Linked DNA regions of Homo sapiens. The main gene of each other region encodes a partner of the protein of the gene in region 2 in a complex. Each region holds a gene or a part of one and is shown on either strand. Other genes may lie near its edges.

Region 1 (7,025 bases), on a different chromosome or scaffold from region 2:
TAGCTATTGTTCTTGTCACCTTCTTTCTGCTACAGAAAGAAGGATGTGGTCAATATTTGATGATAATCAGTAATTAGGCAGAGTTATAAAGAAGCAATGTTACTTAGAAGTAATATTACCTGTATAATTCCTTACCTGTATAATTCCAATGGCTAGCCAAAGAGCAGCAGACACTGCATATCTCAAAATGCAGCTATAAGGAGCTATGTAGCTAGGTGGGTTTCTAGAAAGACTAGAAGATGAGTCCATTAATGCTAAGTTCTTGAATCCCACAACCTGGAGTAAAAAGGAAAAGTAGTAATTTAAACGGACATGGATAAAGAAAACTACTCTAGACTGAAAACAGAAAACCTCTCCCTACTCACCTTGAAAAACTAAAATATCTAAGTTTGTATAAACAGTAGAAAATCTAGATAAAAATAATTATTATATAGTATTTTAACTACAAAGTATTTATTACACAATATTTAGTTAGCTCATTTGGCATTCTTCTCAATATGACTAAGGGCCAAATATAACCTTATTGTCATACACACTGACAAGACTAAAAATTTAATTAAAAGGATAAAACTTTCATCAGTAAACTACCAATGAGTGAAACCAACAAGTAGTATTTCATGAGTATTTGACATGTGCCAGGCACTGTACTAAACATTTTTATACTTTAAAACAGTATATTACAAAATGTCTTCTAAAGGACATAAGTTCTTGAAAAAAGAATCTATGTTTAAATACTTTTGGTCCATCCATTACACTCACCTCCATGCCTCCCACCCTTGTAGAATAAAGGCTCTGAGAAGTTTTACAGTAAAAGGTGCTACATGATTATACTGAATCCAATATTTTCCAAACTTACTTGACCATAAAACTTTTTCACATAACACCTTTTAAAGCTGAGGAAACTCTTAAACACACACACACACACACACACACACACACACACACACACACTACTTTAGTACAAAAAGAAAAGATGTGAGGTAACAGATAAACTAGCTTGATTTAGCCATTCCACAATGAATACATATATCAAAACACTGTATTGTAAACTATAAACATATGTAATTTTTATCTGTCCATTTAAGAAAAACCAAAATACCACTTCAAGTGAACTTTGGAAGTCTTGTTCATATTATTTTAAAGCCCTAGGGATACAAACATTCTTCTACTAGTTTTATAAAAGGAAAGGAAGGGAAAGGGGAAAGAGAATGGAAAGAAAGAAGAAAAAAGAGGGAAGGCAGACAGACAGACCTAAGAGTTAATGATTTATATTCAATCTTAATTAAGCAGATAATTCCTGAGAAAACCTATTCCCATATAAACTGTTTCCATGTTCAGTCTTATACTCAGTACTGAATACTTCCTTTAATAATTCCAACCAAATCCATGAAATAACTGCATATGTATCACAAACATGTTGTGTTTTGTTCAGTGTAGCCCCAGCTCTTAGCACAGAACATAGTCTACAGTAAGTGTTCAATACAAATTTGTTGAAAAATATCAAACTTATAATAGTGATTCTAATGCAGGGGAGAATATGGATCGGGGGTAGGGAGCTTTTTCAAAATATAGATACCTGGAGTTACCTCAAAGCTACTAAATCAACACATAGTCTCTAAGGGTGAGCCTGAGCATAGGTATTTTACAAAAGATCCCCAAGGGATTCTGATACAAACCAGTGGTTTTAAAGCTACTCCTTACACCTAGAGCAGTCAAACACACAGAGACAGAAAGTATTATAGAATGGTGGTTGCCTGGGGTTAGGTGTAGCAGGGAATGGGTACAGAGTTGTTTAAGGGGTATAGAGTTTCAGTTTTGCAAGATGAAGAGTTCTAAGATGAATGGTGATGATGATTTTGCGTGGCAATGTGAATGTACGTAACACTACTTTTTGTTTGTTTGTTTTTTTCTGAGATGGAGTTTTGCTCTTTCTGCCCAGGCTGGAGTTCAATGGTGCAATCTCGGCTCACTGTAACCTCCGCCTCCCGGGTTCAAGCAATTCTCCTGCCTCAGCCTCCCGAGCAGCTGGGATTATAGGCATGTGCCGCCATGCCCAGCTAATTTTGTATTTTTTGGTAGAGACGGGGTTTCTCCATGTTGGCCAGGCTGGTCTTGAACTTCCAACCTCAGGTGATCCGCCTGCCTCAGCCTCCCAAAGTGTTGGGATTACAGGCATGAGCCACTGTGCCTGGCCAACTTAACACTATTAAACTCTACACTTAAAAATGCTTAAGATGGTAAACTTAAAAAAAGAATTGTGGTAAAATACGTAACATAAAGGTACTCCTTTTTAATGGCTTCACAACAATATTTCAACCTTTAGAGAAATCTTCCACTGTCATGAAAACTTAGTTGGAATTATATTAGTTTAATATTTATAAGGTACATGTAAGTCGCATATAATCACATCAAACAGTTTATACCTCCAAAAAGAAGAGGACAGTAAGTACTTGAAAGAGTGAATTAATTTTTCTCACAGTCTGAATTTCATTCCATTCATTTGCTACAAAATATGTTCTCCATATGCTTACAGGAACAGTGGCACTTCGTACACCACCCTCACCTGGTCAGGAAAATAAAATGAGTAAAAGAGTTTTACCTCCTTTGCTCTGCAAGGGTAGCAAAAGAATTTTGGTACAAATATTTTTTATTTCAGTTACCTTCAACAGCTTTAAGAACCTTTCCTTTAGGTCGCTCCCAATCAATAAAGAATACATCTATTGTAATCTGGGATATGAGCTTATGCAAAAATTGTAGTGCCTGAGAATGACATATAATAAAACACCTGAAAAAGTACCAGCGTTAAGTCTGCTTATAAAACCAATATTGACTCTTTAAGAAACATACTGTTATCACAAGAACATATAATTTTATGAGTGAATTCACATGAAGTTATAATACCACTAAGGAATCATTAGAAGCTCATCAGATAACCTGGAATCATCAAATTCACAGAATTTTCATATACATCTTAATTTACCTTCCCTTTTTCTTTCTTTCTTTAAAATAGGAATATGAAAAGAGGAGACATTTTTCCTCCTCCTCACATAGGGACTTATATAATTGACTCTTTCCCAAAGATTCTAGAAGCACACTTTGTTTTGTAGATCAGCTGACTTCTTTATAAGTAAAGATATTTTCAACTATAGTTTGTTTTTCCTAATTAAAGTTTTCGAATGCTCTTACTGTCTTTTTTTTCTATTTCTGCTATTCAGATTTCTGATTTTTAAAGAATGTGCTGTTGAAACACATCTTTCTTATTTATACAAGCAATATGTTTAAACTGAGGCATTCTTTCTAGTTGCTGCATTATTCATCAAATAAAGGATAAAAATCTAAGTATGAGATACTTCACCTCAAGAAGCTCCCAGTCAGTGGAAAAAGCAGACACTTAACACTCACAGTAAAATAGGATAAGGACTACCAACAGGCATATAAAGAGATTCACCTACATTGATGGAGAACACTGAGTTGGGGATTGGGGGGCCATAGGAAGAAAGGAGCAAAGGAATCTGGAGACAGACAAAACAACTTTTAAGATCTCAACACTTTATCCAGAGTGGTACCTTTTACCCTTGATTAATGGAGACAAAATTCATGCCTGAAGACATTTTGTCCCATTGTGAATGTATCATCAGACTTTAAAGAAAGTTATATACTGAAATATCATTTTATCAAATAAGCCATACAAATTCATGGCTTCTTTGAAAAAAATATTTAAGGCAGAGTTTCAGACTGAGCATCTACTATAAATAAAAGTAAATTTACCACATAAAATAATTAATGCTTTCTTTCAAAACCAAAGTGAATTTCACGCCAAAGATTTTTGAAAGCATTTTAATTTTAAAGACTTGTTAGTTCATTAGCAGGCCTTTTAAATTTGGTAACCTGTCCTTTAAAACTTACCTTCAGAGCAAAGGCACATCCAACATAAGTGACAAAACGTTCTTCCTGAATTGGCATTGGCAGCAAAACAGACACAGACTTCTGTGCCTATAATAAAAATTACTTGATTAAATATTATCACACACAGTTTTTTTTGTTTGTTTGTTTGTTTTTTGTTTTCGTTTTTGTTTTTTTTTGGGAAAGGAGGGTCTCAGTATGCTGCCCGGGCAGGACTTGATTCTGGACTCACAGGATCCTCCCACCTAAGTCTTCCAATTGAACAAGGTTTTTACTAAGCACAATTTATAAACCAAAGAAAGCATAAAAGAGGAAGATAGTGATGTAATCGATAAGCTCAGCACACTCAAGGAATGGGGAGTTGGGAACTTTTCTTAATACTGTTGATCAAAAATTCTCTCAAATAAAAATAGTTCCTTTATAAAGAAAGCTTTTCAACTATTCAGATATTGGCAGTTGGGGAAAATTCAGAAACTCACTCACTTTGAAGAAAATAAGCCAGTAAAGACCTGTTCCCACTGTGATGATAAAGAAAACATTGGCCAGATCACCAGCATAGTACACCAAGAATTTCACAACTGTCTGCAATTTAAAAAAAAGAATTACAGCTGTTTAAGACTCCATGTATATACCACTTTTAGTAACACTACCACTTTTATACATCATCCACTCCATTTCTTAAGCCTGAAGCCTTGTTTCACATATCCCCATATGATCCAGCTATAAAGACCACCTGCTTCCTCCTCCTTGCTACCTTTTGGCTCCTTACCTTTCTGGCCGTTCCTGGTAGCCTCTTCTTTCAACTCTTCTCATCTTTCACTATCTAAGAAAATTGAACTGCTTCCTAATTTTCTCTTAGTTGGGAATCCTCCCCTCTAATCTCTCCTCCACACTACCACCAGAGTTAGTTTTCTAAGATGTAAATTGGATTGTGTCACTCCCCTTGTTAAAAATGAACAACTCCTCATTGCAATATAAATTCCTGATCCACAAGGTCTTTCACAATATGGGCCAAAATTAACTTTTTAGCCTCATCTGCCAGTTCCAGCCATGTAGTCAATGACTAACCACTCCATACGTTCATCTCAAATACTTTCTGGAATAAAATGGGCATTGTTTTACCAAATATTCTTCTCTTCCCCTCTCTGGTAAGTTCTCATGATTTCTGAGAGCACAGACTATGTCTGTCTTTGCTCACTAACACATTCTCCAGCTCCTGGTAGAGTGCCAGACACTTAGACAATAGAGCCTCAGTGACTATTATAGAATGAACAGATAATCCCACTTAAAGTTCATTTCTCTGGGAAGCCTTTCTGGACTATCCCAAGTAGTAAATCAAGTACCCCTGCTGATTCCTTAGCCCACTGGCTTTGGAATCAGAAAGATACTTTGGTTAAAGCTACCATGTAACCTTTCTCATGTTCTTCATCAACAAAACGGAAATACCTATTACTGAGTTGCAAAAATCAAGTGAGTAGAAAATTTAACCTTTACCTCAATTTCATCACGTGTAAAACGCAAATAATAATAATAACCTAACTTCAAAGAGCTACTGTGCGGATTCAGAAAATTACATACATAAAGCTTTAAAAAGTGCCTGGTACATGGTAAATATTTTTTAAATGTTTAATAAAAATAAAAGGTTAACCATGAAGTGAAAGTATAAAGTTAATAGAATAAAATGTGGACTATCTTTGTGATCTTGATATAGGGACGGTTTTCCTAAACAAGATCCCAAAAGCACGTATCATAACATGAAAAAAAATATTCAGATATGATGATATCAAAACCAAAAGTTTCTGGCCAGGCGTGGTGGCTCATGCCTGTAATCCCAGCACTTTGGGAGGCTGAGGTGGGCGGATCATGAGGCCAGGAGTTCAAGACCAGCCTGAACAACATGGTGAAACCCCGTCTCTACTAAAAATACAAAAATTAGCCAGGCATGGTGGTGTGCGCCTGTAATTCCAGCTACTCAGGAGGCTGAGGCAGGAGAATTGCTTGAACCCGGGAGGCAGAGGTTGCAAGTGAACCAAGATTGTGCCTCTGCACTCCAGCCTCAGCGACAGAGTGAGACTCCGTCTCAAAAAAACAACAACAAAAAAAAACAAAAATGAAAACAAAAACAAACCTGAAAGTTTCTGTTAAACAAAGGACTACATGGATAAAAATAACGGATGGGTCACATATTTATTTGGTCATATATTTCAACATCAGAAACCAAAAAGGGGTTACTATTTAGAAAATACAAAAAAAAATTCTTCAAATAAACAATAAAAACTGGAAACATAATAGAGAAATGGGCAAGGGATATAAACAGGCAGTTCACAGAAGGAGAAACCCAAACGATTAAAATGTATATGAAGAGTACAGAGAAATGAAAATGAAATCAACAATGACATACTACTATATGCCATGAGGTTGGCAAAAAATGAAAAGGTTGGAAAAATATCAAGTGTTGCCAAGTATGTGCAGAAATAAGAAGAGCATTGCTGGTGGGAATATAGACTGGCATACAGTATGGTGGGAAGAAAATGAGGTACACATATACCATATGACCCAGCAATACTTACCCTAATTACATATCCCAGAAAAATTCAATGCAACTTTTTTACTTATTCTCTAGCTGTGTCTTATGAGAAGGATCCAGAATGGTCAAAAGATAAAAATATTCTTAAAAAACTCCTGAGATTATACCTGTAAATCAATCATGGGACTCCCAATGCGCCTCTTCCATCCTGCTGTCTTCAAAAGAGATGCTAAAACAGCTAGCCCACCCAATACACCCAAAGCAATCTAAAAAACAAAAGAACAATTGAGAATTTATGTAATTTCTGTCATCGGTGTTCAAAAACACTGTGAACAAGTAAGGAAGTGCTCAAAAAAATGGTGGGGTGGGAAATGTTGAAAGGACACAGGAGTCAGCCGGGCACAGTGGCTCACACCTGTAATCCCAGCACTTTGGGAGGCCGAGGCAGGCGGATCATGAGGTCAGGAGATCAAGACCATCCTGGCTAACACGGTGAAACCCGTCTCTACTAAAAATACAAAAAATTAGCTGGGCATGGTGGTGGGTGCCTGTAGTCCCAGCTACTGGGGAGGCTGAGGCAGGAGAATGGCATGAA
Region 2 (7,430 bases):
GGGAATTAGCATGTTAAAGGGAAATAAAGCATCTGAAATTCTATTGTCTTCTCTACAAACCTCATCACAGGGTACAAAAAATAGAGGAAGGAAAATGTAAAAGCAGCTAAGAAAATAGAGAGGCAAGGAGATAACCTAGAGTGAATGAGGGGGCAGATAATAAAGATGAAATGCAAAAGTACATGAGAGCTCTCTAATGAACAACTCTGGTCATTGCAAACTGAAAAAAAAAAAAAACCTGTGAAACATTTTAGTAACTAAAAAAAGTTCTCTATAAGTTAATAAATGCTTTATATGGAAGAAAAAAATAGAAGTAGAAAATGAAAAATGTAATGGGATTTTCTTTTTTCCTCATTCTTTCCTGATCATTTCCTTTAAATGAGTTTCTAAGGAAATCAAATGACACCGAAATTTATTTTTTATATGAACACTGTTGCTAAGAAAAGATAAATCAATACTGCCTGGTTTTAATATGCAGTTTGCCATCATCTTATGCACTGGTACTTGTTAATATATTCCTACTGGCAACATCAAAATAGCTATGATTTACTGCACACTTATTTTGTGCTAACTATAGACATGTTCTCTTTAGTCCTCACAATAACATGTCTGGCTTAGTAGTATGTGCCCCAATTTGCGTATGAGTAAACTGAGGCTCTGACAATTTACATGATTTTTCCAAAGTTATAATTATTAAATGTCACATTCAGAACTTGATCCCAAGACTCTGTGATTCCTGAGTCCTCCCTCACTCCACTCTACCCCTCCATCTCACCATTTATTCTTGCTTTTGCAATGGCATCAATAATTATTCTGTGCTTTCCAGAATAGTGGGCTATTCTGGAAATATTTACAGTTGAAAGCTGTGAAGCATTGCACTGGTGAGAAAAGGCTTAGGCTACATTAAGCCAATGATTTATTTTACTCAGTGCAGAAAACCAGATATATTTTTTCAAGGAAAGTACTGACACCTTCATCTGAATAAATGGACTATTCCTAAGAGTCATCAGTGGGTCAGAGCCATACCTGGAGGTTGAGATACAACGCATCTCAACTCCATATTGGTTGCTTAAAAAATCATACAATATATATGCCCTACTCCAGGATGGCAAAAACATGGGTTTATAGGAAGAGTGGTCCACATATTTCTTTGCCAAGGAATATGTGGACCTGAGTTCCAACTTCAGCTTTATTTATTAGCTGTGTGATCTTGGAACAATGCCCTCCCTTCTCTGAGACACGTTTTTTTTTTTTTTGTCTGCAACATTGCAATCATACTTCCTACCTTGAAGGATGATTAATTTATAAGGGCTAAATGATGAAATGTGTGTAGTAAAATGCCTAGCACAGGCTGGGCTCTCAATATTGGTAGGTTTTGTTACTAAGAAAAAGTGATTGTGGGGAGGGAAAGTGGAAAAAAGGAATGAGGAGGGAAAAGAGCTTGGGGGATAGAAGAGGAGTCATGAGAAAGACCTTAGGTGATGTTCAAGCCCACCCACCTTCAGCTCCAATCTTCAACCCCCAGCTACCATAACTCATGTTTCATGTCTCCCTCCCTTCAGCCAGGCCCAGGGCAGTTGCCTTGCTGTTTCCATTTATGGTGCTTCTGAAACCTCCTGCACTTCTACCCATGAGTATTTTCTTCCTCACACCCTGAGAACATTTTTCTGTTCCCTCCTGGAGCTTGGACACCTGGGGAGGTGCCACATACATTGTTTTGGAATACATTATCTTATTCTACAAGTTATTCCAGCTGCAGTTTCCCTTAGCATAAGGTTAGTGACCAATAGCTTTATAGAATCATTTAATCAGCTCGATATAATGTACACTGGCCTTGAAGAGTACACATGAGTACCATATTTGAGCTGTGTTACGTGATATATGACCAGTGCATTTACATGATGTGCTAAGTACTGGAAGCCCCTCCCTGGATGTCATCCCACTGTCCTCTCAGTGTTTTTATAAATCTCTTATGGCACTTAGCTCATTGTACTCTTATCATGTGTTTATAGGTCTGTTTTCCCAGCAAATTCTGAGCTTCTGACCTAGTCTAATTTATGTTTGCACACTCTAAACTTAAATTCATTGCCTGGTGCATTGTTGATGCTCCATAAATGTTTGAATGAATGACTCTATAAGTGAGCTCTAGGATATATATATATATATATATATATATATATATATATATATATATAGAGAGAGAGAGAGAGAGAGAGAGAGAGAGAGAGAGAGAGATTTCATGCTGGTGCTGAATTTATTTGCAGAAAAGGTTATATGAAAATGCAGTAGCAAACATATTTCTTATTTGACTTTATTAGCTTTTCATACCACCTCTTTGCAATGAAGGGAAACAAACAATCAGCTTAAGTTGTAGCCAGTACATTTTCTTGAAGTCTTTGGAAAGCACAGCAACTCTTAGCACTGTGGTTAGTAGCCCTTTCTCTGTCTCATACCAAGAAAAGTGTATTTTGCAGTAATTAGTGCTTCTCCCCTTAAGCCAGTTTGAACTAAAAGGCCCATAAATGCAACACGCAGCTAATGTTTCACAGAGCTTTGGTCAGAGAGCATTTTCACTCAGGACTTGTGATGAACTGGACTTACATTTCCTGCAAACCAGATACCAGATAGCAGCTCAAATCAAAGCTGCCAAGTAATGGTCTATGTTCCCATTTCAGAAAGTAAAAACATAAATAACGATGAGAGCCCCTAAATTTACAATTCATTAAATCCAGTCTCACGGTATCCTGGAGAGGCTGAACTTCAAGCCGGGTAACTGAAAACAGGAAATCACTGTTGCAGCCTAAAGTCCGGTTAGGGACTGATTTACCTTAAGAAACTTTACAAAAGGCACTTTGCAGATTCTGCATTCTAGGATGGAAGTGGAGAGAGACGGTGCTGTTGAATCTTTTAAAAGGGTCCGGAGGGAAAGGCTGAGTGTTGGAGATGCCCCTGGGCTCCTCCCTGGGAAGCTGCAGCCATGTCTTGGAGCAAAAACACCAGCTTAGCAACCCGTTCCTAAGGAAGGTCACTCGGTAGCTTTTTTTTTTTTCCTTTAAAGTGACAGGCTACTTCCAGTAGTGGAGTACAAGCATGCTGGGTAAGCAGAGACGCACAGCCTGCAGTAGAAGGACGGAGAGAAATCAACATGAGCAGCACTGGAAATTAGGTCAAGCCTTAAGAGCTGCCCCTCCCTCATGTCATCCGGTCGTCTTGCATTTCCAATGAAGAACAGGCTCAGAGGTGGGGGGATTTAGAATCTTAAAAGGTCGTCATTACATGGTGAAGCTGTCTAACGTGGCAGCAGCAAAAGCTCTGTGGAGGTGCTGCAGAGTACCAACAAATGTTGCACTTGAGTGTTTTCCAGTTAAAAGTGGAAGGTTGAACGCACAAGTTTAATCTTTGCCTATTCTCTGAATCCCACTGCAATTCCTGAAAACGGATATAAATGTTATGGCTCAAAAAAGTTGGAAAAAAAAAAAGAGGGAGAGGTAGGAGGCAAAGTAGCTGGAAGAGTAATAGAATGAATGGAGCCAAGGAAACACACTCCAATAGACTAGTGTGTATGTGCACATGTGTTTGTGTGTATTTGTGTCTGTGTGTATGGTGTGTGTATGTTTGTGTGTATGTGTATTGACTGTATCTTCTTATTTTCTGTATTCTTGATGCTCTGGCATTTGGAGCCTTGATCCTGGAGAAACTGATTCTCCTATGTTAGCTAATTTCTAGAGATAGCAAATGATTCCCCTGAAATATGCAAAGTCTCCTTTGATATACAAGCCAACCAATCCAGAGCCCACACAACCATCTCCATTATCAAACTCTCACACACTAAGCCAATATTCCTCCTGTCCTAAGTCACCCCAGGTCCAGATACCAGACCACTATAGCCCAGAGAACACCACGATTATTCAAGCTATCCACTCCTAAATTTATGCAGCACCCTACCCTGCTTCACCTATTCCTTCCTGGGAAAACCCTAGTAAAGGCTCTGTGCTGTACTCTGCTGTCTCCGTTCTGCCTTCTGACCAACATTGGTTCTTCCCTATGTGGTCCTGTGTGGCATGCCATGTTCTATGATTTGAATGTGTCTTCCCAAAAGCATGTATTGGAAACTTAATCCCTAACACAATGGTGTCGGGAGGTGGCACCTAATGAGAGGCAATTAGGCTGTAGGGCTCTGCCCTCATAAATGCATTAATGCCATTATTGCAGGAGTGGATTCCTTATAAAAGAATGAATTTGGCCTCGTTTTCTCTCTTTCTCTTTCTTGCTCTCATGTTTTCTTGCCTTGCACCATAGGATGGTGCAGCAAGAAGACCCTTGCAGGATGCCAGCCCCTTGATCTTGGACTTCCCAGCCACCAGAACTGTGAAAAATAAATTTCTGTTCATTATAAATTGCCCAGTCTGTGTATTCTGTTACAACAACAGAAAACGAACCAAGACACCATGCTTCTTGTTTCTAGGGATCTGTTAAGTATAAACTTCTTCTTTTGTGCCAATCATGTTTGTGTCTGTGTGTCTTACCATACCTAATTAAAACAAATCCAGAGTACATTTTTTGACACAGCCTGCATGCATGTGTATGTGTCAATGTATTTGTGTTTGTGTCTCTGTACGTGTATGTATGTGTGTGTGTGTCTGTGTATGATGGGGTGTGCACGTAGGCATGAATATGAGGAAATGAGCTGATTTACTGTGCCAGGATTTGGGGCAGCAGTGTTATAGCTGAATTGTGTTCTCTCTCATCCCCAAAGATGCTGAAGTCCTAACCTCAGTATCTCAGAATGGGACCTTATTTGGAGATAGGGTATTTACAGAGGTAATCACATTAAAATGAAGTCATTAGAGTGAGATCTAATCCAAGATGATTGCGTCCTTACAAAAGGGGAAATTTGGATTCAGAGACAGACAAAATAGAAGAAAGGCAACGTGAAGACATGGGGAGAGCACCATCTCCAAGCCAGGGAACACTCAAGGCTATCAGCAGCCAGGAGAGAGGCCTGGAACAGACTGTCTCTTGAAGCTTCACAAAGAATCAACCCTGCCACACCTTGATTTCAAATTTCTAGTCTCCTGAATTGTTAGAAAATTTCTGCTGTTTAAGCCACTCAGTGTGTGGTACTTTGTTACAACAGCATCAGGAAACTAATACAACCATAGACTAAGGAAGGTGGGGAGAGATACGGGGCTAAAAATGCAGGAAGATTTGAAAGTCTGTATATTAAGGGATTGATCCTCAGGATCCTTTTTCTTGGCAGCCTGAAAAATGCCCATTCCTCAGGCATAATTTCCGTCCTCCACATCTGCCTCATCTGCTGCTGCCCAAAGGAGACTGGCGGTTTCTTTTCTAGGGAAGTTAAACCAGAGACTCTCTGGTCTCAAGTTCCCAGGTACTGCAGCAAGTGAGTGTGTCTCAGGATTGAAAACTGTATATGAAATGAAGATGTTGCAGGGCCCTTTCTGAACCTTTCTCAAGAACTTAGACAATCAAGAACATGCCATTGGCTCCCCCATCCTACCTCTACCTGCACAAAACTGGAGAAAGTAGAAAATTATTTTCTGGAAAAACTGAATGATTATAAAGCACAGACCCTACATACTGACATTTCTGGATCCTCCAATGACAAAGCTAGCATATTGCCCTTACAGAAAAGCATTACAAAAAACATTAAAGGATCTCAGGCTAGGAAATTTAATGCTTGTAGTTATAAAAAGAGAGAACCATGAAAATGGAAAAGTATAATTTACCAAAGGAGTAATACAAGAACAACTGTATGAAATAATGTATTTTCCAATTGAAGGGGACAATCTACTATCTCGTGCTGGTAAAAGAAGACAATAAGAAAACTTGTCTGTCTTGGCTTGTATTCTGCATGTGGTGAGAAAAATATGAAGAATTTACAACCATTGGTTTGCACCATGCAGTTTGTCTTATTTATGCTCCTTATATATTTTAGGAGGCCCCTAAGTGATAACTTTTAAAAAGTGGCCTCTGTCTACTGTATCCCCGTGGGGTGCCAGGCAGAAGTTATTACAAAACTTTTCTGGAGGAACACACCTTCAATTGGACAATTCAGGATGTCCACAAATAAACACAGAGGAAGATGAGCTCACAACCCAAAATTAGACAACAGAAGAGAAACACTCAAGAGTCCACAGACAAACCAGAGGACACTATTAGATACTCAAGAGTTTCTTGCAATACAATAATCAGATGGAGAGTGGAAAAATAACAATGACCAAATATTCAAGAAGATACAAGGAGGATTTGAAAATATGAAAGAAGAGTGAGACACTATCAAAAAGATCAGACAAATTCAAAAAGTAACCAGATAGAACTTTTAGAAATAAATAATACAGTCACAAATTTAGATAAAAGTCAAAGAATGTGCTAAACTGTAGATGAGAGAGCTGAAGAGATGCAAAAGATAGGTTTAAAAAATTGAAATGTGGCACAGAGATATTGAAAATAGGAAAGAGTAGGTAAAAGATACAGGGAGAAATTGATGAGGTCCACCATATCCAGTACAGTACCAGAAGGAGAGGAGAGAGAAAGAAGTTGAATGCTCTGTCTTACAACTGAGGGATCTCGGTCAACTTTCTTAACCTTTCTAGGTTTCAGTTTCCTTCTCTGTAGGAAACTGAGGTTTAATAATAGTAACTATTCCAGAGAGAGTTGTTAGGAAATTTGTTAAGTTAATAATTGTGAAGCACTTAGGACAGTCCTGGCACATAGTAAATGTTGCAAGGTTTATTAAGTGAAGAAAAATATGAATGTTTACCGTAAGAGATTATCTACTTGAAATGGTCAGCTGCCATGAGAGGAAGGACTTGTTCACCACTCTTTTGCTAATTAACCGTCTGATTATTACCTCCCTGATATTTTAAAAGTCTCATGGTCTGCCAACAGAGCTAGCTGGGCACGTCCTCTTTGATCTTTAATACTGAACTAATTCATAAGAATCATACAACTTCTTAAGTTCCAAAAATATTAAAAAGTATCATTGCAAAACACCATTACTTGCAAAAGTTCTTATGTAAGCAAAATAAATGAATCTAGCAAATTTATTTTAAATCATAACACAAAAATCTCATTCTTTTGGTTAAGTGTTCCTAGTTGGCTAAAGAGTTTTTCATCAAGAATAAATGTTGAATCACATTATCACAAGCTTTTTTCTACATCTTTTGAGATAATTAAATATTATTTTTATTCTTTCATCTATTAGTGTAGAGAATTGCATTATCAGGCATTTTAATGTCAAATTGTGCTTGCATTCCTGGGATACACTCAATTTTGTCAAGATACTTCAAAAATTAATATTGGATTTAATTACCACTTTCTAGAAATTTTTGCATTTATGTTCTTAGCTGAGATCAGCCTTGTATTGTTCTTGTCTCATTTTAGGATAAAGGATAGTCTAACCTCAA
Region 3 (6,932 bases), on a different chromosome or scaffold from region 2:
TGATAGGCCATCTACGTACAGATCTATTTTGGACTCTTTTTTTTGTTTTTTGCTTTGAGACAGAGTCTTGCTGCGTCGCCAGGCTGGTGTGCAGTGGTGTGATCTCAGCTCACTGCAACCTCCACCTCCTGGGTTCAAGCGAGTCTCCTGCCTCAGCCTCTGGAGTAGCTGGGACTACAGGTGCATGCCGCCACGCCCAGTTAATTTTTGTATTTTTAGTAGAGACAGGGTTTCACCATGTTGGCAAGGATGGTTTCAATCTCCTAATCTCTTGATCTGCCCGCCTCAGCCTCCCAAAGTGCTGGGATTACAGGCGTGATCTTTTTCAAAATTCTTTTAACCATGTAACTCCTTTGCATTTCCATATAGATGTTAAGAGTCAGCTTGTCAATTCTACAAAGAAACCTGGTGGGATTTTTACTGAGATTTAGATCATCTTGAGGATAATTACCTTAATGATATAGATTTTTCCAATCCATGGACATGTTATAGTACTCTACTTTATCCAGGTCTTCATCTTACCAATGTTTTGACATTTTAAGTGTACAAGGCTTGCACATATTTTGTTAATTTTATGTTTTGTGCTTTTGGATGTTATTTTAAATGGCTGTGATTTTTAAAATTCAAGTTCAAATGGTTTGTTCCTAGTATATAGAAATACCATTGATTTTTGTATATTGACCTTGTATTCTATAACCCTATTAGTTCTGCTGGCATTTTTGTAGATTCTTTAGGATTGTTTAGGTTCATATTGTATGTAGATATACACAATTTTACTTCTTCCTTTTAAATTATGTTCACTGCAGCGTCGACCTCCTCGGCCCACATGATCCTCCCACCTCAGCCTCCCAAGTAGCTGGGGCCACAGGCATGCACCACCAAACCTGGCTAATTTTTAAATTTTTTATAAATAAAAAATATGTTGCCCCGGTGGGTCTAAACTCCTGGGTCTAAACTCCACTGTGTCTGGCCCAAGCCATTCTTGATATCATGGTACAAACTCCTTTGAGAATCTGATAAAAGCTATGAACTCTTTCTAGAAAAATCCCCCATTCAGAATTCTAGGGAAAGGATTCATAGACTTCTTGAATCCCACTCATGGATCTCAGTTTTAAGAATCCTGGTTCATGCAAATCAAGACCACGATGAGATACCATCTCACACCAGTCAGAATGGCAATTACTAAAACGTCAGGAAGCAATAGATGCTGGCGAGGCTGTGGAGAAATAGGAACACTTTTACACTGTTGGTGGGAATATAAATTAGTTCAACCATTGTGGAAGACAGTGTGCGGATTCCTCAAGGATCTAGAACCAGAAATATCATTTGACCCAGCAATCTCATTACTGGGTATATACCCAAAGAAATATAAGCCAGTCTACTATAAAGACACATGCACACGTATGTTTACTGGAGCACTAGTTACAATGTCAAAGACATGGTACCAACCCAAATGCCCATCAGTGATAGACTGGATAAAGAAAATGTGGTACATATACACCATGTAATACTATGCAGCCATAAAAAGGAATGAGATCATGTCCTTTGGAGGGACATGGATGAAGCTGGAAGCCATCATCCTCAGCAAACTAACACAGGAACAGAAAACCAAACACTGCATGTTGTCATTCATAAGTGGGAGTTGAACAATGAGAACACATGGACGCAGGGAGGGGAACACCACACACTGGGGCCTGTCGCAAAGTCTGGGGCAGGGGGAGGGAGAGCATTAGGACAAATAACTAATGCATTCAGGGCTTAAAATCTAGGTGATGGGTTGATAGGTGCAGCAAACCACCATGGCACATGTATACTTATGTAACAAACCTGCATGTTCTGTACATGTATTCCGGAATTTAAAGTAAAAAAAAAAAAAAGGACATTCTGACACATGCTACAATATGGATTAGGTATCTAAAACAGTCAAATTTCATAGAGAGAAAATGTAGAATGGTAGTTGCCAGGGGCTGGAAGAGGGGAATGAGGAGTTACTATTTAATGGGAACAGAGTTTCAATTTTCAAAAATAAGAAAGTAGTGGCGATGGATGGTGATGATGGTTGAAAAACAAGGTAAATGTACTTAAGACCAATAAGCTGAATATTTAAACATAAAAGGATCCTGATTCATAGAAATCAGTAAACAAAACATGAAAACTTAGTTTACCTATATAAAAATAATACTAATTATGGTTGCTTACACAAATAGCTTATATTTCCATAACGTGGTATAGAAACTATTTTGCATATAATTATGTCAGATTAACTTTGTTATAAGTTAGATTTGGTTATAAAATTAAACTAGAATCAGGCTCCACTTTATCAGCTGTTGTGCATGTGGCACAGATTGCCTACTCACAATTTTAAAAGGAAACATTGGAGAGACAATTTCTTAGGAGCTAGAAAGGTGCCTTTTGTTTTATGTTAAAATTATTTCCGGCCGGGCGCGGTGGCTCACGCCTGTAATCCCAGCACTTTGGGAGGCCGAGGCGGGCGGATCACGAGGTCAGGAGATCGAGACCATCCCGGCTAAAACGGTGAAACCCCGTCTCTACTAAAAATACAAAAAATTAGCCGGGCGTAGTGGCGGGCGCCTGTAGTCCCGGCTACTTGGGAGGCTGAGGCAGGAGAATGGCGTGAACCCGGGAGGCGGAGCTTGCAGTGAGCCGAGATCCCGCCACTGCACTCCAGCCTGGGCGACAGAGCGAGACTCCGTCTCAAAAAAAAAAAAAAAAAAATTATTATTTCCCAGGTTGGAAATGTGTGCGTTTATGGAATAAATTGGTAGGTGAGAGGCTGTGAGGCAAACTGGAAGGTGGTTAGGCTTCAAAAGACAGAAGAACTTGGGCTAGAATCCCAGTACTTTTACCACTTGCAAGCTAGCAAGTCCTTTAAACCCTGGCCTTCACGAACTTCATTTTTAAAGTGAATAAAAGTACCTTTTTGAGAGGCTTCTACAAGGATTTGGGACAATGCAAACAAAAGTGCTCAAGCTGCACTAGATCCTAAATAAATGGTGCTATTTATGGTGAGTCGGTGTTACACAACTAGTGGCTATGGCACCCAGAGCTTCCAATGCCAAATCATCAAACTGGCATGAGATTCCCGAGTTCAGGGGACAATTGCTTACTTTGTTGGAGGAGGACTAGATGTGAACAAGGCTGATAAATGTTGACATTCCCAAAGTGCCGGGACGCCAGACGTGAGGTTACAGCATGTCCTTCCTTTGCTAGTACAACGAAGCATGACTTGTGAATGTCACTTTTTTGGCTTTTCAGGAAGCCAGTGCAGTAACAAAGTGGCTTAATGATCCAAAACTAACATACACAAGGTAAGAATCAGTTCAATAATAACATCGTTTCCTTCCTTACTGTTGACTTCCTTGTTTTTTCTTTCTTTGCTCAGTGAATATCAACACAAAGACTAATAAATCTTCTGACACTTTTTTTGTCTTCCAAGAATATATTTTCTTGTCTGGCTAAGGGCCATCACCTTCCCTGACTCCTTTGGGAATAATGGGTGCATTTCTTACAGTCACATCACCCGATTTTCAGGCCAAAGTTTTCACGCGTTGGGTGGAAGGCAGTGTGGCATGGTGGAAAAGGTAGAGGGCGAAGACTCAGGCCACCTGGTCCCCGTCATCATTTCTGCATCTATCTGTCTATATGAAGTGGGCTGATGGCTGTGCCAGTTTCCTCATTTGCACAGCGCACGAGGTCCCGCTTTCGGTGAGCTTTTATCGCATACATGGTAAGCGGTGATCGGTAGGACCCCGGAGCCCTCTTGGGCGTTCGGCTTGGGCTGCACTTGCACTGTGTGGCCAACTGCGACCGTGGCGCCGTGACGGGAACGGCGGGTTGCGCGCGCAGCACCTCCGTCGCCTCCCGATCCAGCGTCTCCGTTGCCAGGAAAACAGAGCGGCGCGCTTTCCGGCGCAGTCGCGGCGCGTCGCAGCTGTCATGGCGGAGACCGTCTGGAGCACTGACACCGGGGAGGCAGTGTATCGCTCCCGGGACCCCGTGCGCAACTTGCGCCTCCGGTAGTCGCACCGCCCCAGCCCCGAGGCCCCATGCTTTTGTGTCCTTAGATCATTCCAACCTGAGCTCGGTGTTCTGAGGTCCCCACTTTCTGCTTACAATCCCGACCACTTCTCCGGGCTCCCCACTTCTTTCACTATCCGTACCCCCATCCACTCACAGCCTCTAAGAACCCCTTACAGACCTACCCAAGTCCATTCACGTCTTTGTTGCTCCCAGTTTCTCAAAGCCCTGTGCCCCCAGTACACCCTCTCCCCTTCATTCTTCCCCATAGGACGGCGCACCCACCCACCTCCTCTCCGTTGTCTGCACCCAGCACACCTTGGCAACCCTACCTCCTCTGTTTTGTTTCCCCCATCCTTGCTTTGTGTTCATCTCCTGGTTGCGTGTCTGGTAACGAATATTTTGGGCTTTTCTTGACAGAGTCCACCTGCAAAGAATCACATCAAGCAACTTTCTTCATTATCAGCCTGCTGCCGAGCTCGGGAAGGACCTCATAGACTTGGCCACTTTTAGGCCTCAGCCAACTGCCAGTGGGTGTTACGGTGGTGATGTGCCATCTAATACTAATTATGATACTAATCAGAATTGTGGCCAAATGTAGTGAGATAACAAATACTATACTTCTGATATGTTATAGAGTTGCCCGGCAACCTACATTCTATTTGTGGCTTTTTTTTTTTTTTTTTTTTTTTTTTTTTTTTTGAGACGGAGTCTTGCTCTTTCCCCCAGGCTGAAGTGCAGTGTCGCTATCTCCGCTCACTGCAAGCTCCGCCTCCCGGGTTCACGCGATTCTCCTGCCTCAGCCTCCCGAGTAGCTGGGACTACAGGCGCCCGCCACCACGCCCGGCTAATTTTTTGTATTTTCAGTAGAGGCGGGGTTTCACCGTGTTAGCCAGGATTGTCTCGATCTCCTGACCTCGTGATCCGCCCGCCTTGGCCTCCCAAAGTGCTGGGATTACAGGCGTGAGCCACCGCGCCCGTCCTATTTGTGGCATTTTTAAAAGAGAAAACGTGCCCCAAACCCTAAATACACATATAAACACTTTTAAAAACAATTTTTAAACTGGAGACTGCTTGCAAAATCTGCATATGATGTGCATGTATAGATCAACTGTGTTCTTGTGGTTTTCCTTATCTGGGAAACCAAAAGAATGAGGAGGAGAGGACAGAGTGGTTGTTGTCAGGTCACTAGTCTGTTTGCTTTTATTGTTTCTCTTTCTGTTCAGAGCTGTTCCTGGGCAAGAGTGTGGGCTCACAGGTTGTGAAACGTGTCTCTGAAAAAGGCATACCCAAGAGTGTATTAGATTAGATTTGTTTTCTTTGTTTTTGTTTTCGTTTTGTTTTGAGACAGAATCTCATTCTTCTGCTCAGGCTGGAGTGCAGTGGTATGATCATAGCTCACTGTAAACCTTGGTCTCCCAGGCTCAAGCCATCCTCCTGCCTCAGCCTCCCAACTAGCTGGGACTACAGACTCACACTCAGTTTATTTTTTTTTAAAGTTTTAGTAGAGAAAAGGTCTTGCTATGTTGTCCAGGCTGGTTTCAAATTCCTGGGCCCAAGTGATCCTCCCACCTTAGCCTCCCAAAATGTTGGGATTACAGGCGTGAGTCACTGCATTCAGCCAGATTTGGTTCTGTTAAAAAATCATTTATTTGCCTTCACTGTCCTCTCCTTACACTTGGTCTCCTAAATTTCAGTGTTTGTGATTCTACATATATGGCTTTAGAAATAGTAAAGATAAAAATGCCAGGGTTATTTTCTAGCAAATGCAGACAGTTGGGACTGAGGAAGGGCTGGCTATTCAGCTTATATCTAAATTTCAGTTTCTTATATCCAGTTAGATTAGATATTTCCTGGAGCGGGCTGAGCGCCGTGGCCCACGCCTGTAATCCCAGCACTTTGGGAGACCAAGGCAGGTGGATCACCTGAGGTCGGGAATTCAAGATCAGCCTGGCTAACATGGCAAAACTCCATCTCTACTGATAATACAAAAATTAGCTGGGTTGGTGGTGTGTGCCTGTAATCCCAGCTACTTGGGAGGCTGAGGCAGGAGAATCGCTTGAACCCAGGAAGAGGAGGTTGCAGTGAGCTGAAACAGTGCCACTGCACTCCAGCTTGGGTGACAGAGTGAGACTCCATCCCCCCCAGAAAAAAATTCCTGGGGGGTATTTTCTTTTATTCAAATTAGAGTCATGACTAAGACTTCCTGGGTTCTAATCTTGGCTTCTACTCATACTAACTCTCATATACAGCCTCTCTAGCATTTCTCTAGGTTGAGTGCTTACTAAATTGCTGAATTCCAGCTAGTTTTTGTGGCAAATATAAGAATAGGGACTTTGGTTATAATAAACCACAGAACAAGAAGTGGTGCTGGTTTGGCTCAAGCATTTGATTCACTCTGTTGTCTTTGGAGGTGGACACCGCCCAGAGGAAGACGAAGAGGAGGAGATTGTGATTGGGTGGCAGGAGAAGCTCTTTAGCCAGGTGAGCCAGTGTCTCTTGTCTTCTCTGTCTATTCCATCTGGTCTACCTCCACATGGCTGGTGATACATATTGCCAAAGTGATTTCCAGACAGGTTGTAACAGTTTATACTTTCCCCTGTTGTGTTTAAAGGGCATTGTAACATAGGGATTGCCACTACTCAGTTTTGTGATTCTGGGTGAGGAACTTTTCATCTCTGGGCTATATGCCATCTGTAATAGCAGACTTGGATTAGACTATCAGTCTGGTTCCTTTTAGCTCTAATGTTCTTGGTTCCCCTGCCATTCATTAGTTTAGTGTTGGTTATGAAAACATGTCAGATAGCATCAGTTCTGTAGAACTGATTTGATTAAACAGTTACAGAAGCAAAAGTTTGATGTATTATAATGATGTACACATCTCTGTTTCCTTA
Region 4 (7,310 bases), on a different chromosome or scaffold from region 2:
GCACCCAGAAGACAATCAATAAAGGGAAAAGAAGGATTATCATCTCAGTTGTACAAATGAGGAAACTGAGGCTCAGAGAGCTTAAATAAGTTCAGTCTCCTTTTCTTAAACTGCTATGAAGATGAAACAAGTGCTTTGCAAACAGCAGAGCACAGAGCGGGCTGAAGTTGTCACCACAGTCCCTCACCTGGTGGAGGCAAGCTACCCCTTGGGAAGTCCTGGAAGGAGAGCTCCTACTCTGTCTTTTTACTCCAGGTCCTCCCCACTGGCTGAGGAGAGGCCAAATGGTGAGCGGACTGGCCAGAGTGTCCACAGCTCAGCCACGTCCAGGCTGGCTCACTGGGGCCTGCCTCCTACTGCAGGTGTTGCTCTTTGCTGCCCCGGGGAAGCTCACAGGGTAGGGCTTCTGAGTGCAGTCTTGGTGGATGGATCAGGGAGTCCAACCATGGCTGTGTCCTCTGCTCCCGCTTTACCAGGAACACTCATGTTTGGGTTCCCCTGAACTCAGTCTCTACCTCTTAACTTGTTCTGAATGGGGAGGGGAAGGATATGACACCTTCAGAAACCCCAAAAGTCATGAAGGCGGTAAGGGAGGCCCAAGAGTCCAGCTTACCGCTGTGGGGGCCCAGTCCTGGCCGTACACAAAGCAGTACTTGCAGTAGAGGTCATCATACTCTGGAAACTGAAAAAAGCACAGACAGATTCTGTCGACTGGTATTCATGCTGAGGCCAATGCATTTGCTAGGCAGGTGCAGCCAAGGGGAATTCTGAACGTGAGACACCTGGGAGTGGGTCTAAGAGACGGCTGGAGATGTGTTCAGAGGAGAGGCTGAGGACCAAGAAGCGGGAGTCCACGGGAGACTCCCAGGTGCCACGGCCCCTGGCTTTTGCTCAGGCTCTGCCTTGTCTGATTTGTCCTTCCTACTTCATCCGGAAAACTCCTGCTCACCCTTCAAAACTTACCCTTCAGGGAGCCTGCTCTAACTCTCAAGCTGGTTTAAGGTCTCCTCTTGGCTCCCTTAGCCCCGTGCTTCCCTCCATAAAAGCAATGATTGCCTGTGTCTAAGTCTGTCAGTTCCTCTAGACCATGAGTAGAGAAGAGATTTAATGCCTTTCTGTGTCCCCACTGCCTGGCACAGGGCTGGGCACAGATAAGGTCTAAGGCAGGGGTCCTCAACCAGTCCGTGGCCTGTTAGGAACGGGTCCACACAGCAAGAGGTGAGGAGCAGGCGAGCAAGCAAAGCTTCAACTGTATTTACAGCTGCTCCCCATTGCTCGCATGACCACGGGAGCTCCACCTCCTTGTCAGATCAGTGGCGGCATTAGATTCTCATAGGAGCACGAACCCTACTGTGAACTGCACATGTGGGGGATCTAGGTTGCATGTTCCTTATGAGAATCTAACGCATGATGATCTGTCACTGTCTCCCATCACACCCAGATGGGACCATCTAGTTGCAGGAAAGCAAACTCAGGGCTCCCACTGATTCTACATTATGGTGAGTTGTATAATTATTTCATTATTATTTACAAGGTAATAATAGAAATAAAGTGCACAATAAATGTAATGTCCCCAAATCATCCCAAAACCATCCCTCGCCACCTGGTTTTCCACAAAACCAGTCCCTGGTGCCAAAAAGGTTGAGGACCACTGGTGTAAGGGAATGGTGCTGAAGTGAAAGGTCTGAGAACCCAGGAAGCCATCATATGCAAGGCTGGAGCTGAGGCCCTGAAAAGAGGGAGGTGCTGAGAGCAGAGCAGGGAGGAACAGTGTGACTGTCAGTGTGTGTGTGGCGGGGGGGTCGCTGATGCTGAGAGCACAGACACATGTGACTCAGCCCAGCCGAGAGCCCCTAATAGGAAAGGACAGGAGAGTGGGGAAAGACGGTCTTAGGCACTAGGCTAAGGCAGAGGCGGACAGGGTGGGAGCATGGAGTAGTATCCCTGATGAAATAGGAAGGCAGGAGACACCTACAAAGCATCAGGCCCTGTCAGAGCCTTACCCAAACCGTCTCAGTCAATCCTCACAATAATATTATAAAATAATAATAAACACCACCTCCAACAGCCTGGAAGGACAGTGTAGTGAAGCTTTGAGGTCAGATAGGCGTGGGTTCAATTCCCAGACAGGCCAGTTCCTTTGGTATATTTCCCCAGCTGTAAAATGGGGGTGTTAGTAGTGCCTATCTGGTAAGGCTGTAAGGGTGGACCAGTGCGGAGCACCGACTTTGGGACATATTGAGGACTTGGTGAGCGTTGGTTTATATTTACAATAAATGATTCCTCTAAAGTGTAGGGGGATGGGGAATAGCGTCCCTCGGGCCTAGCAGGCACACCTTCCTTGGGTCAATTCCAGGCCACCACCATTGTTGGATGGTTGGATTCGAACCCGAGTTCAAGGATCTGGGGATTCAGAACGCGGGACAGTAACTCCACACGGGACACAGCGCAAATGCTGGAAACTCGGCCAAGCCTCGGCTCCTCGCGTTAACCCCAGGAGGCTCCTGCCAGTGATCCAAGCAAGTGGGCATGACCCGTGCGAGGGCCCACAGGCTTGCCCGAGTGTGACCTCGGTACTAGCTCAACATCTCGAGGTCTGCTTCTATTCCTGCACATCGGGACTCAGGATCCGGGCAACCTCGCGCCAAGCTCTCCAATGCTGGCTCCCCTCCCCCGCCTAACCGAGAGGCTCAGAGGAATGACGTGGCTCTCCGGGGGCCACAGGGCAGCCCGGGGGGTTGCGGGAAGGGCCCCGGGGGACGCTGGGGGGCGGGCCCCGGCGGGGTCCACGGCCGCTCACCTGGGCGCTCTCCACCTGCCCGTTGACCATGAGTAGAAAGACGCTAGGACTCGCGGTCGCCATGGCAGGTCTGGGGGTGCCGGGGGGACCCACCTAGGCCGCGCGCGGTTGCTAAGAGACGCCGGCGTTGCCCTAGAAACAGACGGCGTAGCGCGCAGGACACGTTTCTTGGCAGCGACACCTTCGCGAAGGCCACGCGAGTGCGCGTGTGGCATGCGCAGGCGCAGTGAACGGGCGCCGTTATAAGGGGGCGGGGCACAAGGGGCGGGGATCCACGCCGAGGCTCCACCCCTCCTTAGGGCAGGTATGACCGAGAGCTGGGGCGGGAGCGTTGACCTGTCGGGTAAAGCCAGCCCTACCGCTCGACTCAGTTGCACGCGCAGGGAGTGTGTGTTCACTCTGACTCGGCCCGGCTCCCCGTCCCCGCCGAAGCGCAGAGGCGAATGAGAGCTGAGTCCTGGGGAGCAGCGCTCCGACTCACGCCCTCAGCAAGCCGAGTGTTTAAAATACATTCAGCCACTAGATGTCGCTGTGGCCCCACCGCGAGGACGCGGAGGGAGGCGCTGCAGAGCACGGGCGACGTGACCACAGCTGTCGGGGCTAACTCTGGAATGCCGGGTGCTCGGAGGAGCCTCCCCAGCTGGGGCCAAGCAGCGTCCAAGCAGGTGAAAAGGATGCGCCCCTGTGGCTTGGAGACGCTTGCCCTCGAAAAAGTTTATTAAACAAACTTGGGAGGGACCTCAAGAATCCTTACATCCAAGCCATCGCTCTTTAGTTCGAAGCTGGGGAAACTGAGGCCCGCAGCGGGCGGCGCCTGGCACCCCAATCAGCCAGCGCTCAGGGGAGTTGCTAGCCAAAATCCACGAATCTGTCAAGATACAGTCTTGTATCTTAGTGGCCTGTCACAGAGTAAGCACTTGGTAACTACTAACTTGTTGATAAATGAATAATTGAAGACATCTCCATTTTACAGAGGAGGAAACAGATTCAGATGGCAAAGGCAGGTAAGTAGCTAAGTCAGGATTCAAACCCAGGACTCCAGAGGCTAACAACCCTCACTGCCTCTGTCTTGTCCTGGGCCAGCCCCAACAGCATCTGTTGGCAGAGGTGTCAAAGGAGACGTTGGAGACATTATCTTGGATCCAGGAAATGAAGGGATTCACAGGTGTGTAGACTCCCGGGAGGCCAGGCTCCGAGCAGGGACCCCAGGTCATCACATTCTGCAGCTTCTAGCTTGGGAGCAGACTAGGGGAGTCCCATCAACCATCTGCACGAGGGAGGGAAGGAGCAGTCTCAGCCCAGCCTGCACCCACTGAACCACCCCCTGCCTAGTGAGCAAAGATATTTGATCAGGGGAGGGAGGCAGCGGGTAACCAGTTCACACATCTGACAAGAGCAGCTGGGGGAGGGGATGGGTGGGCTGGTGGCCCAAGTGCTGCACCCAGAGCCCAAGACAGGGCCCATTTCCCCTCCTGGAGAGGGGGTCATACTCCCTTCTTCCCCCGCTCTGTCCATCTCTTTCCAGTTAAAGTGCTTTCTCCCACACATTCTATCAGTCTCACCCAATTATTTCCTCCCTTTGGCCTTTGAGGCTCGGTGTTGCACACAAGTTAGTTTTCAGCAAAATGCTTGTAGTTATCGAATAACTGGGGGCTCCCAGTAGTTTAAGACCTGGCTATACCAAAGGTGGCCCCACATTCAAATAGGACATAATGGGGGAGTCTCCCCAAGGGGTGGGAAGTTCTAGGGTGGCCTTCAGGGGTACAAATAAGCCCGACCCCTGGGTGTTGGGGAATGGAAGACTCCAGGATAGGATGGGAGGGTGACCAGGCCTAACTTTAACAAGTCTAGTGGCATTAGAAGCGACTTTAGGAGAGGGGTCTCAGGGGCTTGCATAGGGGCTTGCATAGGGCCTGCTGGAATCCTTACCACCAGTTCAAGGGCCCAGTGGAGAGCCTGGTGTACTAGAAGTCCTTGGGCAGGCTGTCCTTCAGGTCAGGACAGTCAGGTTGGAGGAGAAGGTAGTTTCTGCAGATGCTGACACACAGCGATCTCAGCAGGACACTCTGCAGCTCTTGGGGTGGGATGTAGGGATCTGCAATGGGGTGGGGCAGACCCTCAGCCCAGCTGACATCCAGCCGATCTGCACCAGTCCAGCCATGCTGGTTGTTAACATATATTGCTGAGCTTCCCTGCCTGTGCCTGTGCCAAGTCTCTCCACCCCCAGATGCCTTCCTGGGCTCCTAGACATTCCTCGCTCCCACCTCACTCTTAGTACAGCTCTGTCCTCTGGTACACTCCCACGCAGTCCCCTCAGGGAAGCTTCCAGCACATTGGGCAGGCGGGGCTGTCAGCCATTGGGCAGGGGTGAGGCTGGAAGCTGGCTTGAGCAGAGCAGGTGTCAGCGCCAGCCCTCTTCCCTGCATGCCTATGGCCATGGTGCTGCCGGGCAGCTGGCCAGAGCCCCTGCAGGGTCCCAAGCTCCACCCTGGCCATCTGCCTCCCCCAGTCTCTCAACCATCCCAGGCTTCTGCTCCCATCCTTACTGAAATCGGGTTCAAACCCCTGGCCCCAGCAGAGCTGTCTCAGGAAGAGGGAACAGTGGGATTGAGTGGCCAGGGGGACGGCCTGCACAGCGCTGGTGAGCGACGGAGGCCTTGCCCCTTGCCAGTTGTGCCAGGACCAGGCTACCAAACCCAGAGCCCTCGGGCCCTGCTGAGGACAAGAGCAGCTCCCCCATGGTAACCTGATCTCACAAGAGTCCATCTGCAGTCGATCTGGACCCAAGGTCACACTGAAGTGGGACCAAGGCCAACTGTGGAGAGAGGAGGTGAAGGGGAGGTGGAGAGCTGGAGAGGCTGGGGGCCACCCTCCTGGAGCCCCTCTCCACCACCCCTCCTGGCTGTGCACCCACCTGTCAAAGCAGTTGGCGCCTGTGAGCACCCACTCTTGGGAGATGAGGGCCCCCTCACAGCGGCACCAGGTGTCCAGGAAGATGCTGGCCTGGCCAAGCCATTTGTCTGGGCCCTTCTTGCTGGAGGCCTCAGCCAGCCTGGACCCTGCACCTCAGGAGACTGAAGCCTCAGAGCTCAGCTCCGGGTCCCAGGGCCTTGCAGGTCTACCATGCATCTCTTTCCATCCAGCCCTGCGATCTCTGCAGCCCAGCTTCCACCCCTCACCCCTCCAGCTCAAAATCAGACTGCCTGCAGTGGAATCCTATGTGACTCAGGGAAAGTCCTTTAACCTCTCGGAGCCTCGGTTTCCTCATCACACCCAGGGGGTTGTTGTGAGGATTAAATGTGATAATATATGTCAAAGTTCCATACATTTGTAGCTATTCTTTTTTTTTTTTTAATTAAAAAGTTTATGGGCACATAGTAGGTGTATACATTGCAGCTATTCTTGTTGCTGAAGTCATTCCTGGGGTGCTCCTGCTTTTTCATGCCTCCTGGTTTGCACATGCTGTTCCTTCTACCTAGCTCATCATCTCCTACCTATCCGCCCAGAGAACTCCTATGTAGCCTTCAGAGCCCACTCTTGTGAAGTCTTCCTTGAACGCCTCTCCCCTTGGCCCCACAGTCTGCTCCCCACTTCCCACCCAGAAGCTCATTATAAGTGGGTGTCCGGCTCTGCTTGCTTTTCTCTTTAGACAGGGAGCTCACTCATCTCTAAGGAAGCTGGGCCTCCTTGAGGACAGCCCTCCATCTGCTCTGCCCTGGTCATCGGGGTCCACCCTCAGCACCTTCAAGGGGTGGGGAGCCCTGGGGTGCACACTAGGGGCAGGCATCCTGCATACAGACTTGGCGCTGGGGTCTCCAGATCCTCCTCCCAGGAGCTTGTCCTGGGTCCTGGGGCAGGGGACTTCTTAGAGTCCTGCTCTGCCCCGTCTCAGGTAAGAGGCAGAGAGGGCAGCTGGCTGAGACCAACAGTAACAATAATAATCCCATGTGCCCTCTCTTTACACCCCCACGAAGTCCTGAGCCCCTGTGATTCTGGGCTCCTCACAGTGACCCCCCAGACCAGTGCTCCTAGCCCCCTTTTACAGATGGGGAAGTCGAGGCTCAGAGACAAACCGACTTCCCAAGATCACAGTGAGTTGGAAGCAGAGTTGGGATTCAAATCAGGGTCCCTGTGACTCCAAGTCCCCAAATCATTTCTCTCAAAGGCCTTATAGGTCTTTCCTTCTGTCTTTGCCTCTTGGCTCTTCAGCGGAGGGGCCACACTTGGAACACCGGTTGCTTGAAATGCCTGGTGCAGGCACTCGGCTGAATTTCACAAATGGTGCAAAGTCAATACCCTTTGTGGCCTGTCCCTGACGATTCCTTGGGCCTCACCTCACCCTTCCCCTCAGGCTTGAAGTACTGTATGCCTGCGGTTCTAGGTGGGCAGGTCCATGCAAACCAGAAGCTACAGGGGCTGAGAGGCCAAAGAGAGAGGCAGACAAATCTGGTTTCTCAGAAAGAAGCATTTAATAGAGGCACATAAACAGAAGCCATGTCTAGGGCGGTCA

The links.
Region 1: CC2D2A (region 2) and TMEM67 share a complex: the UniProt entries of both Homo sapiens proteins name them as parts of the tectonic-like complex.
Region 3: CC2D2A (region 2) and MKS1 share a complex: the UniProt entries of both Homo sapiens proteins name them as parts of the tectonic-like complex.
Region 4: CC2D2A (region 2) and B9D1 share a complex: the UniProt entries of both Homo sapiens proteins name them as parts of the tectonic-like complex.

The regions. Positions count from the first base shown.
Region 1 is NC_000008.11:93,792,869-93,799,893, reverse strand, and holds part of TMEM67 (meckelin isoform 1 precursor), read right to left. Parts: intron 6,697-7,025; coding exon 6,598-6,696; intron 4,486-6,597; coding exon 4,387-4,485; intron 3,994-4,386; coding exon 3,907-3,993; intron 2,761-3,906; coding exon 2,661-2,760; intron 2,564-2,660; coding exon 2,424-2,563; intron 277-2,423; coding exon 136-276; intron 1-135. UniProt on the Homo sapiens protein: Required for ciliary structure and function. Part of the tectonic-like complex which is required for tissue-specific ciliogenesis and may regulate ciliary membrane composition.
Region 2 is NC_000004.12:15,465,455-15,472,884, reverse strand, and holds the start of CC2D2A (coiled-coil and C2 domain-containing protein 2A), read right to left. Parts: upstream 3,004-7,430; 5' UTR 2,828-3,003; intron 1-2,827. UniProt on the Homo sapiens protein: Component of the tectonic-like complex, a complex localized at the transition zone of primary cilia and acting as a barrier that prevents diffusion of transmembrane proteins between the cilia and plasma membranes.
Region 3 is NC_000017.11:58,216,256-58,223,187, reverse strand, and holds the start of MKS1 (tectonic-like complex member MKS1), read left to right. Parts: upstream 1-3,932; 5' UTR 3,933-3,957; coding exon 3,958-4,037; intron 4,038-4,458; coding exon 4,459-4,568; intron 4,569-6,442; coding exon of another isoform or gene 6,443-6,451; coding exon 6,452-6,522; intron 6,523-6,932. UniProt on the Homo sapiens protein: Component of the tectonic-like complex, a complex localized at the transition zone of primary cilia and acting as a barrier that prevents diffusion of transmembrane proteins between the cilia and plasma membranes.
Region 4 is NC_000017.11:19,359,707-19,367,016, forward strand, and holds the start of B9D1 (B9 domain-containing protein 1), read right to left. Parts: upstream 3,018-7,310; 5' UTR 2,864-3,017; coding exon 2,801-2,863; intron 683-2,800; coding exon 614-682; intron 1-613. UniProt on the Homo sapiens protein: Component of the tectonic-like complex, a complex localized at the transition zone of primary cilia and acting as a barrier that prevents diffusion of transmembrane proteins between the cilia and plasma membranes.